Linked DNA regions of Homo sapiens. The protein of the gene in region 1 purifies or fractionates together with the protein of each later gene. This does not show direct contact. Each region holds a gene or a part of one and is shown in the gene's direction. Other genes may lie near its edges.

The links.
Region 2: the proteins of DEFB125 (region 1) and OSCP1 purify together in Homo sapiens (affinity purification with mass spectrometry; one large-scale study listed by BioGRID and IntAct). This does not show direct contact.
Region 3: the proteins of DEFB125 (region 1) and FBN2 purify together in Homo sapiens (affinity purification with mass spectrometry; one large-scale study listed by BioGRID and IntAct). This does not show direct contact.

What each region holds. Positions count from the first base shown.
Region 1 is NC_000020.11:94,082-97,704, forward strand, and holds the end of DEFB125 (beta-defensin 125 preproprotein), read left to right. Parts: intron 1-1,923; coding exon 1,924-2,336; 3' UTR 2,337-3,013; downstream 3,014-3,623. UniProt on the Homo sapiens protein: Has antibacterial activity.
Region 2 is NC_000001.11:36,422,911-36,426,571, reverse strand, and holds part of OSCP1 (protein OSCP1), read left to right. Parts: intron 1-3,105; coding exon 3,106-3,209; intron 3,210-3,601; coding exon of another isoform or gene 3,602-3,635; exon of another isoform or gene 3,636-3,661. UniProt on the Homo sapiens protein: May be involved in drug clearance in the placenta.
Region 3 is NC_000005.10:128,257,302-128,259,881, reverse strand, and holds the end of FBN2 (fibrillin-2 precursor), read left to right. Parts: intron 1-52; coding exon 53-427; 3' UTR 428-1,973; downstream 1,974-2,580.

The sequences.
Region 1 (3,623 bases):
TTTTTGGTTTTTTTTTAATAAAAACTAAATGCTATTTTTTCTTCTACTTTTAGTTGATGTGTAATAATTGTTCATATTTAGAAGATGCAGAGTGATATTTTGATACATGTATACAATGTGTAATGATCAAATCAGGGTAATTAGCATATCTATCACCTCAAACATTTGTCATTTTTTTATATTGGGAACATTCAGAATCGTCTCTTCTAGCTATTTGAAAATATACAGTAAATGATTGTTAACTACCGTCACCCTACAGTGCTATAGAACAGTGGACCCCTTTTGGCACCAGGGACCAGTTTTGTGGAAGACAGTTTTTTCGACGAGGTGAAGGTGGTGGTGGGGATGGTTTCAGGATGAAACTGTTCCACCTCAGGTCATCAGGCATTAGAGTCTCACAAGGAACACACATCCTAGATCCCTCACATGCACAGTTCACAATAGGGTTCATGCTCCTATGAGACTCTAATGCCTTGGCTGATCTGACAAGAGATGGAGCTCAGGTGGTGATGCTTGCACACCTGCTGTTCACCTTTTGCTGTGCAGCCTGGTTCCTAACAGGCCATGGACCAGTACCCATTGGCTGCCCAGGGGTTGGGGACCCCTGCTATAGGATGCTGGAACTTTTTCCTCCTATCTAGGTGTAATTTTCTATCTGTTAACCAACCTCTCTCTATCCTCCTTTCCCTTCCCAGCCTCTAGTAATCATTATTCTACAGTCTACTTCTATGAACTCAACTTTTTTAGCTCCTGCTTATGAATGAAAACATGTGGTATTTATCTTTTTGTGTCTATTTCACATAACGGAATGTAACATGTCCCCCAGGCTCATCCATGAGTCTGAGGCTTATTTGTAGCCTGGCTGCTGGGCTTCCCTGTGGGATTGTCCTCTGAGCAAACAGAACACAGCCATCCTGCTGGCCAGCAGTTGATAGATGATCTCATGATAATAACAGGTTATAACTCACCTTTTCTTGGATTTCTTGCTTTCCTGATTTCTACATTTCTCCACTGATTTTTTTTAAGGAGGAATTGTCTCTCAACTAAACTATTATATTCAAATCTTTGCTGGAGCTCTGCTCTGCTGGGGGTCTGCTTTAAGACTCTAGAGTCTTATTCTCCTGTTTTGATCTGACTTATCTTATTGGTCCTTTTAAGTCGTTTCCTCTTATCTGATCTCTTATCTCTTAATATTGAAACTCACTAGAATTTAATTCTAGTCCTCTTTTTTTCTCATATTATTCCAACCCACCATGGTTTACCAATTTCTGTACTTTAAATGCTATCCATAAGCAATCACATTTATTGATTTGCATATGTCGAACCAACCTTGCATTCCAAGGATAAAGGCTACTTGATCGTAGTGGATAAGCTTTTTGATGTGCTGCTGGATTCAGTTTGCTACTATTTTGTTCAGGATTTTTGCACTGATGTTCATCAAGGATACTGGCCTGAAATTTTTTTTTTCTTGTGTCTCTGCTAGGTTTTGGTCTCAGGATGATGCTGGCCTCATAGAATAAGTTAAAGCGGAGTCCTGCCTTCTCAATTTTGGGTGAATAGTTTCAGTAGGAATGATACCAGCTCTTCTTTGTATATCTGGTAGAATTCAGCTGTGAATCCATCTGGTCCTGGGCTTTTCATTTTCATCCTTTCTTTCTAGGTTTCGTATCAGTCTCAGTATGCTCTCTCTCTCTCCGTCCCTCTCTTTTTCTACATTTCTCCTTTTCTCCATACAACTTCTTTGATGGCACATAGCACAATTTTAATATACACTTTTTGTTCTCCTGTTTGTCTCTTACAATGGCTTTTTGTATTTGACATCATATTAGTCTAGATGTCAGTCAGTGTAAATTTTTGAATGAATGAAAAGTTGTTATGTTGATGCCAGAGTTAAAAATTTGACCTATATTTTATTCTCTACAGGTAGCTTTGAACCCCAAAAATGTTGGAAGAATAATGTAGGACATTGCAGAAGACGATGTTTAGATACTGAAAGGTACATACTTCTTTGTAGGAACAAGCTATCATGCTGCATTTCTATAATATCACATGAATATACTCGACGACCAGCATTTCCTGTGATTCACCTAGAGGATATAACATTGGATTATAGTGATGTGGACTCTTTTACTGGTTCCCCAGTATCTATGTTGAATGATCTGATAACATTTGACACAACTAAATTTGGAGAAACCATGACACCTGAGACCAATACTCCTGAGACTACTATGCCACCATCTGAGGCCACTACTCCCGAGACTACTATGCCACCATCTGAGACTGCTACTTCCGAGACTATGCCACCACCTTCTCAGACAGCTCTTACTCATAATTAATTAACATTTACTTCTGGTATGGAACAACTAGAAATACTGCTGGAAATAATATCCAAAGAGCTGATTCTACCAATCCAATTTCACCAGGAAAATTCCATCAGGGATTGGATGACCATGGGGATGGACATAATTGCTACTACCAACACAACAGCCAAGAGAGTTGCCTTACAATTAGAAATGTGTAGACAGAAATGTATAGAAGATACAAGGATTCTCTTAATTGGACTTAAATTCTTTATCTGTCTTCCTCCGATGTACTCAAATATATGAGCTAATTTTTGTCTTAAGTGAACATTTGTATATCTATGTATTTTTCCATGCCAAAAACAAAAACGAAGACCATTGTTTGGAGCTGCCTCTTATGACTAAGACAAGAATTTTTACTTTAACAGTGCCTGGCCCACTACTATCGTATATAGGAGAACATATAAAAGCATATAGAAAGTTCCAGATGAATGTTCCCTTCTCTACCCTCCACCTTTTATTGTAAGTTCTGACCCTAAATACTTTTCTGTGTCATGACGTCAAATTTTGTTTAAGGTTCTAGCTGGTAACTAACAGAGTCAGAAGCTAATTCTTTCATTCAACACAAGCACTGATCTAACTGGATAGAGATAAAAGTGGGACTTGCCTTGAGAGTACATCATATTAAATTAAAAGCTGCATCTCAAATTCTACTTATCTTTCCAATCTTCTTTCCACTTAGAATTCCAACTTCCAAGTATGGCAGCCTCATAACATGCCTCTTCAGGTCTCTGTGTTGTCCATGAATGTTAGTTGTGTGCAGTGTTTCTATGCTTTGTATGGCTGTACGCATGTGACTGCTGTTTGTATGGCAACAGGTGGGTCAGTAAGTGTCTTCTATGATACTACAGAGAAGCGGTTATTAACTATAAAGTTGATTAGGTTTTTTTTTTTTTTTGAGACAGAGTCTAGCTCTGTCGCCCAAGCTGGAGTGCAGTGGCATGATCTCGGCTCACTGCAAGCTCTGCCTCCTGGGTTAACGCCATTCTCCTGCCTCAGGCTCCCGAGTAACTGGGACTACAGGCACCCACTACCACACCTGGCTAATTTTTTGTATTTTTAGTAGAGAGGGGTTTCACCATGTTAGCCAGGATGGTCTCGATCTCCTAACCTCATGATCCATCCGCCTTGGCCTCCCAAAATGCTGGGATTACAGGTGTGAGCTACTGTGCCCGGCTGATTATTATTTTTTTTAAGTTCCAGGATAGAAGTGTAGAACATGTAGGTTTGTTACATAGGTATACATGTGCCATGATGGTTTGC
Region 2 (3,661 bases), on another chromosome or scaffold:
AGGAAGAGACAAAGATGGGCCCTGTTCTGAGCAGGGGGAATTTGAGGTACATCCTAGGGGACCCATAGATGGAAATGTGTGACAGGCAATGGGATGGATGGGTCAGTGCCAGGGAAGGAGCTGGAGTGGGACCTTGAGATCTGGGAGCCATGAGCTCAGAGGTGAGCCCTGGAGTATGGGAGGAGACGAGATCACCTCGGAAAGGAAAGGGTGGAGGGAGAAGAAAAGGCCAGCAGAGGGGCTGAGCAAGCAAACAGACCTAACAGTCCTCTCCAGCCACTGGCAGAGTCTCAGGCCAAACACAGACACACACATGACCTAAATTTGTACATTTCAGATCTACCATGCCATAGTCAACCTCATAAGATTAAACTAACAGAGTTTCTAGCACATATAAATATTCCCAATTCTCCCTCTAAATTTTCTTTCTCCTTTCTTGTACTCACATCCCTTGGTCACAGAATCTTGAGGTTAAAAATGTCTTAAACGTCATCCAGCAAACCCTCTGACCAAACCAGTTTACATGTTCCCCTGAAAACGTGACTCACACCTGCTCATCTCCATCTCTGAAGTGTCTCTACACCTACCTTCTTCCTCCAGGCTCAGCTCCAGACCCACAGTCACGCCTGCCTCCCCCCAGACTCCCGGCATGCCAGCAGTCATTCTCCTCAGCAAGCTTCTATGCACCTGCTATGTAGCATGTCCTGCTTTAAAGTGTTATTTTCTCCATTTTATGCTTGTGTCCTGTGTCCAAATAGACTTGTAATAATAAGAGTATTGGCTACCATTTATTGAGCACATAGTCTATGTGTCAGCCTTTGCTTTTTTTTTTTTTTTTCCAGATAGAGTCTTGCTCTGTTGCCCAGGCTGGAATACAGTGACAAGGTCTCAGCTCAATGCAACCTCCACCTCCTGGGTTCAAGCGATTCTCCTGCCTCAGCCTCCCGAGTAGCCAGATTACAGGCACATGCCACCACACCCAGCTAATTTTTTGTATTTTTAGTAGAGACAGGGTTTCACCATGTTGGCCAGGCTGGTCTTGAACTCCTGACCTCATGATCCTCCCGCCTCAGCCTCCCAAAGTGCTGGGATTACTGGCGTGAGCCACTGTACCCAGCCGGCTTTACTTTTTATACACTGTCTGATTTAGTTGTCACAGTAACCCACCGAGTTATCTATTATTATTACTATTATTACCCCCAGGTTACCAAAGGGAAAACTGATGCACAGAAAGGTTGTGTAATTTCCCAAAAACCCAGAAGTGGCCCGTCCAGTATTTAAGCCTTCAGAGTCTAACATCAGTATGCCAAGCTGCCAGCTCACACATTCTTATCGCTTTGCATTTTCACTGCCTTGCACACAACAAATGCTTATTCTTTCCATTTTTTTTTTTTTTTTTGAGACAGAGTCTTGCTCTGTTGCCCAGGCTGGAGTGCAGTGGCATGATCTCGGCTCACTGCAACCTCCACCTCTGGGGTTCAAGCGATTCTCGTGCCTTGTCCTTGTGAGTAGCTGGGATTACAGGCATGAGCCACCACACCCTGGTAATTTTTTTATTTTTATTAAACACAGGGTTTCACCATGTTGGCCAGGCTGGTCTCGAACTCCTGACCTCAGGTGATCCACCCGCCTCAGCCTCCTAAAGTGCTAGGATTACAGGCGTAAGCCACCACACCCAGCCTAAGATACTTATTCTTGATTATATTACTAATATAACCTTATAGAATATTAGAGTTGAAAAGATCTTCAAGCTCATCTCTTATTTTACAGATAAGGAAGCCAAGACCCAGTAAAACTGATTAACTGCTACTATCTTTATGAGATTTAATCTGTGAGTGACCGAAACCTCTATACAGAGTACACGAACCCAGGAGAAGGAATAAGTGTAATGTGTTTTCAGTCACCTAAAAGATCCTCAAACTTAAATGTCAGCTGGATCCCCCTGCCCCAGCCCCATCCTTCTTTCTAGTCCAGCATGTGGATAAGGTTCGGGCTCCAAAGTCAGAATCACAGGAGTTTGAATCCTCAGCTCTGCCCCTTACCAGCTGGCTGACCTTGAGGAGGCATCTTAACCTCTGAGCTGCCTCATGTAGAAAGTGGCCATATGAGGTTCTTACAGCTCAAGGCCTGCAGCTGCATGGAAAGTAGGCAGGGAACCAAGGCATACGGGTGGAATTTGGAGTCACCTTTGGTTTTGAATCCTGGCCCTGCCTCTTAGCTCTCTTTGGGCAAGTCACTTCACTCTCTACTTTAGCTTTCTCGTCTTTAAAATGGGGGTAATAGGACTCACCTGGAAGGTTTGCTGCGCTGCTCAAAAGTAGTTCTGTTTGTAGCCGAGCACGGTGGCTCACGCCTGTAATCCCAGCACTTTGGGAGGCCGAGGCAGGCAGATCACTTGGGCTTAGGATTTTGAGCCTGGCCAACATGGCGAAAACCCATCTCTACAAAAAAATATAAAAATTAGCTGGGCACAGTGGCTCACACCTGTGGTCCCAGCTACTTGGGGGCTATGACGGGAGAATCGCGTGAGCTGGCGGGGCTGAGGTGGCAGTGAGGCAAGATCGTGCCACTGCACTCCAGCCTGGGTGACAAAGTGAGTCCCTATCTCAAAAAAAAAAATAGTTCTGTTTGTTAAAATACAGTTAACTCTGCAAGTGTAATTTTTTCTCCCTTCTTTTTTTTATTTTTTTATTTTTTTGAGATGAAGTCTTACTCTGTCGCCCAGGCTGGAGTGCAATGGCACGATCTTGGCTCACTGCAACCTCTGCCTTCCAGGTTCAAGCAATTCTCCTGCCTCAGCCTCCTGAGTAGCTGAGACTGCAGGTGCCCACCACCACGCCCGGCTAATTTTTTGTATTTTTAGTAGAGACAGGGTTTCACCGTGTTAGCCAGGATAGTCTCTATCTCCTGACCTCATGATCCGCCTGCCTCAGCCTCTCAAAGTGCTGGGATTACAGGCATGATCCACTGCGCCCAGCCTCTCCCTTCTTATTGTTATAAACTCATAGGTCATGTTCCCAAACCATTACGCACTTTCCACCCTCAGAATATTGATGTCTATGAAAATATACCAAGAAAAATGACAATAAATGTATTTTTTTCCAGGTATCCATGTTTCTAAAGGACAAAGTTCAGAATAATAACGGTCGCTTTGTGTTGCCGGTGTCCGGGCCTGTTCCTTGGGGAACTGAAGTTCCAGGACTCATCAGGTGAATTCCCAACAATGATCAGAGCTATGTTTGGGGTGCTAGGAAATCAGCACATGGGCCGCACACGGAATGCCGCACTGCCAAGCCACTCACAGTCTGCCCAGCCCTTCTCTTTCTTCAGTAAAACAGCTATTGAAAAAGTCAGGTTCTAATCCCCACCTTGTCACTTAGTAGAGGGACTTGAGGCAAGTTACCCAGTTCCCCAGGACTAATTTCCTCATCTGTTAAATGGTTACTGTGTGGATGAATAAGATAATAGTGCTCTAACGTGCTTACAAAGCAATTGGCACATACATATGCTCAATAAATATTATTATTGTATTATTATTATTATTATTACAACCAGCACCTTTATCTTGAAGGAGAGCATGTATTCCTTTTTTGTTCTGTAGTACAAAGAATAAAGAAGCCTCCAGGACTACCTAAGCTTGGAGAACATTCCATCATGTCAT
Region 3 (2,580 bases), on another chromosome or scaffold:
TCTGCTTGTGCTGTAGAAGCTTGTCCCAAATCATTTCCTGTTCTTCCTCCAGGTTGAACAGATCAGCCTAGAGAGTGTCGACATGGACAGCCCCGTCAACATGAAGTTCAACCTCTCCCACCTCGGCTCTAAGGAGCACATCCTGGAACTAAGGCCCGCCATCCAGCCCCTCAACAACCACATCCGTTATGTCATCTCTCAAGGGAACGATGACAGCGTCTTCCGCATCCACCAAAGGAATGGGCTCAGCTACTTGCACACGGCCAAGAAGAAGCTCATGCCCGGCACATACACACTGGAAATCACTAGCATCCCTCTCTACAAGAAGAAGGAGCTTAAGAAACTGGAAGAGAGCAATGAGGATGACTACCTCCTAGGGGAGCTTGGGGAGGCTCTCAGAATGAGGCTGCAGATTCAGCTCTATTAACCCTTCACAGACTTGGGCCCAGGCTCAAATCCTAGCACAGCCAGTCTGCAGAAGCATTTGAAAAGTCAAGGACTAATTTTAAAGAGGAAAAATAATAATAACTCTTGTTTCTTTCCTCCCTGTCTTAGACTTTGAATGTTGACCCTCACAGGGAGGGATAATTTAGACTCTGGTATGGCCAAAGATTTGAGCACAAAGGCAACCGTGGTTACTGTATTTTTTATATAACTTCATTTTAAAATATATTAAAAGAAACCTAAATGTTCAAGATATCAGCATATGGCACTAAATGCACAAAAATAATGTGAGCTTTTTTTTTTTTTCCTGTTAGCAGTCTGTAACACTTTGGGTATTTTGCTATAGTTGCTAATTAAAAAAATATAGATGTTTATTTATTTTTAATGCAGTAATATATGGAGAAATGAACAAACTATGTAAACAAAAAGGGAAACTCACTTGTTTTTCTTTAGATTTATAAATTTGAGCTATTTTTTTTAGAGGTGCTTTTTAAAAATCCAATAGATACAAGAGATGTTTCCTTTGGTTTTCTGCCAGTCATCCAGCTGATACACACCTGATGATTTTAAAGAAAGCCACACAGAGCTGAATGGGCAGTGTAATCAATAATTTAAAAAACATGAATGTCATTAGATCCTTTATAACGTAGATCGAAGCCAAAGCAGCTCATTTGTGACAACATTTCATATCACCAGACACACCAGGCAACAGAAGTTGAAGCACAACCACTGTAGCAAAATACCTTGACTGCTTGTGAGACCATTAGCATTGCAGGCCAAACCGTACTGTATTTCCTTCTCATAACCTCAAGGAACCATATGTGCTACCCACAACACCTCATTCTTACCCAGGGTGCGCTGCGTCCTCATGGTACTGTAGGCAGCTGAAGAACCGCCGTTCCCTTGAAAGGGAACACCTGGCATTCTGTGGTGTTTCGTGCTGTCTTAAATAATGGTGCATTTATTATGTTCAAGTTATTTCAGGATTGCCATATGTGCAAACAAATCATGCAATGCAGCCAAGGAATATATGTTGTTGTTGTTGTTTTAAACCCATTTTTTTTTTAGAATTTTCATTAATACTGTAGTTATACACCATATGCCTCATTTTATCATAGCCTATTGTGTATGAAAGATGTTTGTACAATGAATTGATGTTTAGTTTGCTTTAGTCATTTAAAAAGATATTGTACCAGGATGTGCTATTAAGAGCACGTATCCATTATTCTTCTCAACCCAAGAACCTGTTTCCTGGACCAGTGACCAAACCTCATATGTGAAATGGCCAAAGCACATGCAGGCTCCTGGTTGTTCCTCTCAAACCTGTGCTGACCAAAGATTAGTAACCAGTTATACCCAGTATTTTGAGGTTTTATTGTTTTTTTAATAACTAAAAAGAAAAAAGGAACAGTGTAAATTTGTAATCAAGAGTTTGTGAGGAAAAACTTATGGTTTTTGGTTTTGTTTGTTTTTGTAGGTCTGTGTATCAAATATGACACTTTTCTTGCAATAAAGCTTATTTTGGGGTATTTTTCTGACTGAAAATTTTATGAGACCACAACGCCTGTTGTATTTGCGGGAGGGGCTGGGGGCTTTGTCTATGGGAACCTGTATTGAAGTAATAATAGAGAGCCAGACACACAGGAAAATAAAGGAATGCTGGCAAATCTGTGAAGCAAAGTCAACATGTGTTCAACTGATGATTATGATTTGAAGTTACATTCAAATAGAAGGACATAAAGTCATTTACTTATGCATAAATTCTAAGCTTCCTGGGACCCATCTTTCTGGAAACTTCAAAGAATTTCTTCACTTCATGCTAATGCCCCCATAAAGTATCCATGAGGAAGTGAAACATTCTTTTAGAGAATCTTACTTCTCTAAGGTAGAAATTTCCTGAACCCAAGTTTTTAAGCAAAGGTAATAGCGGGCATACCCCAGGCCAAAAGGCATTTTCAAAAATAATCTAAACCTTATCTCTTAAAATGGTATACAGTTTATTCACTGGAGAAGTGGATAGATTTAACAAAGTATTTAGCATGAACTCCCTTTTGATACACTGCCAAAACAGGCACAGAAATGTTTCCAAGACTCTTAGAGATTAATTTAATACATGGTTTAAGAATTTATGCGCTT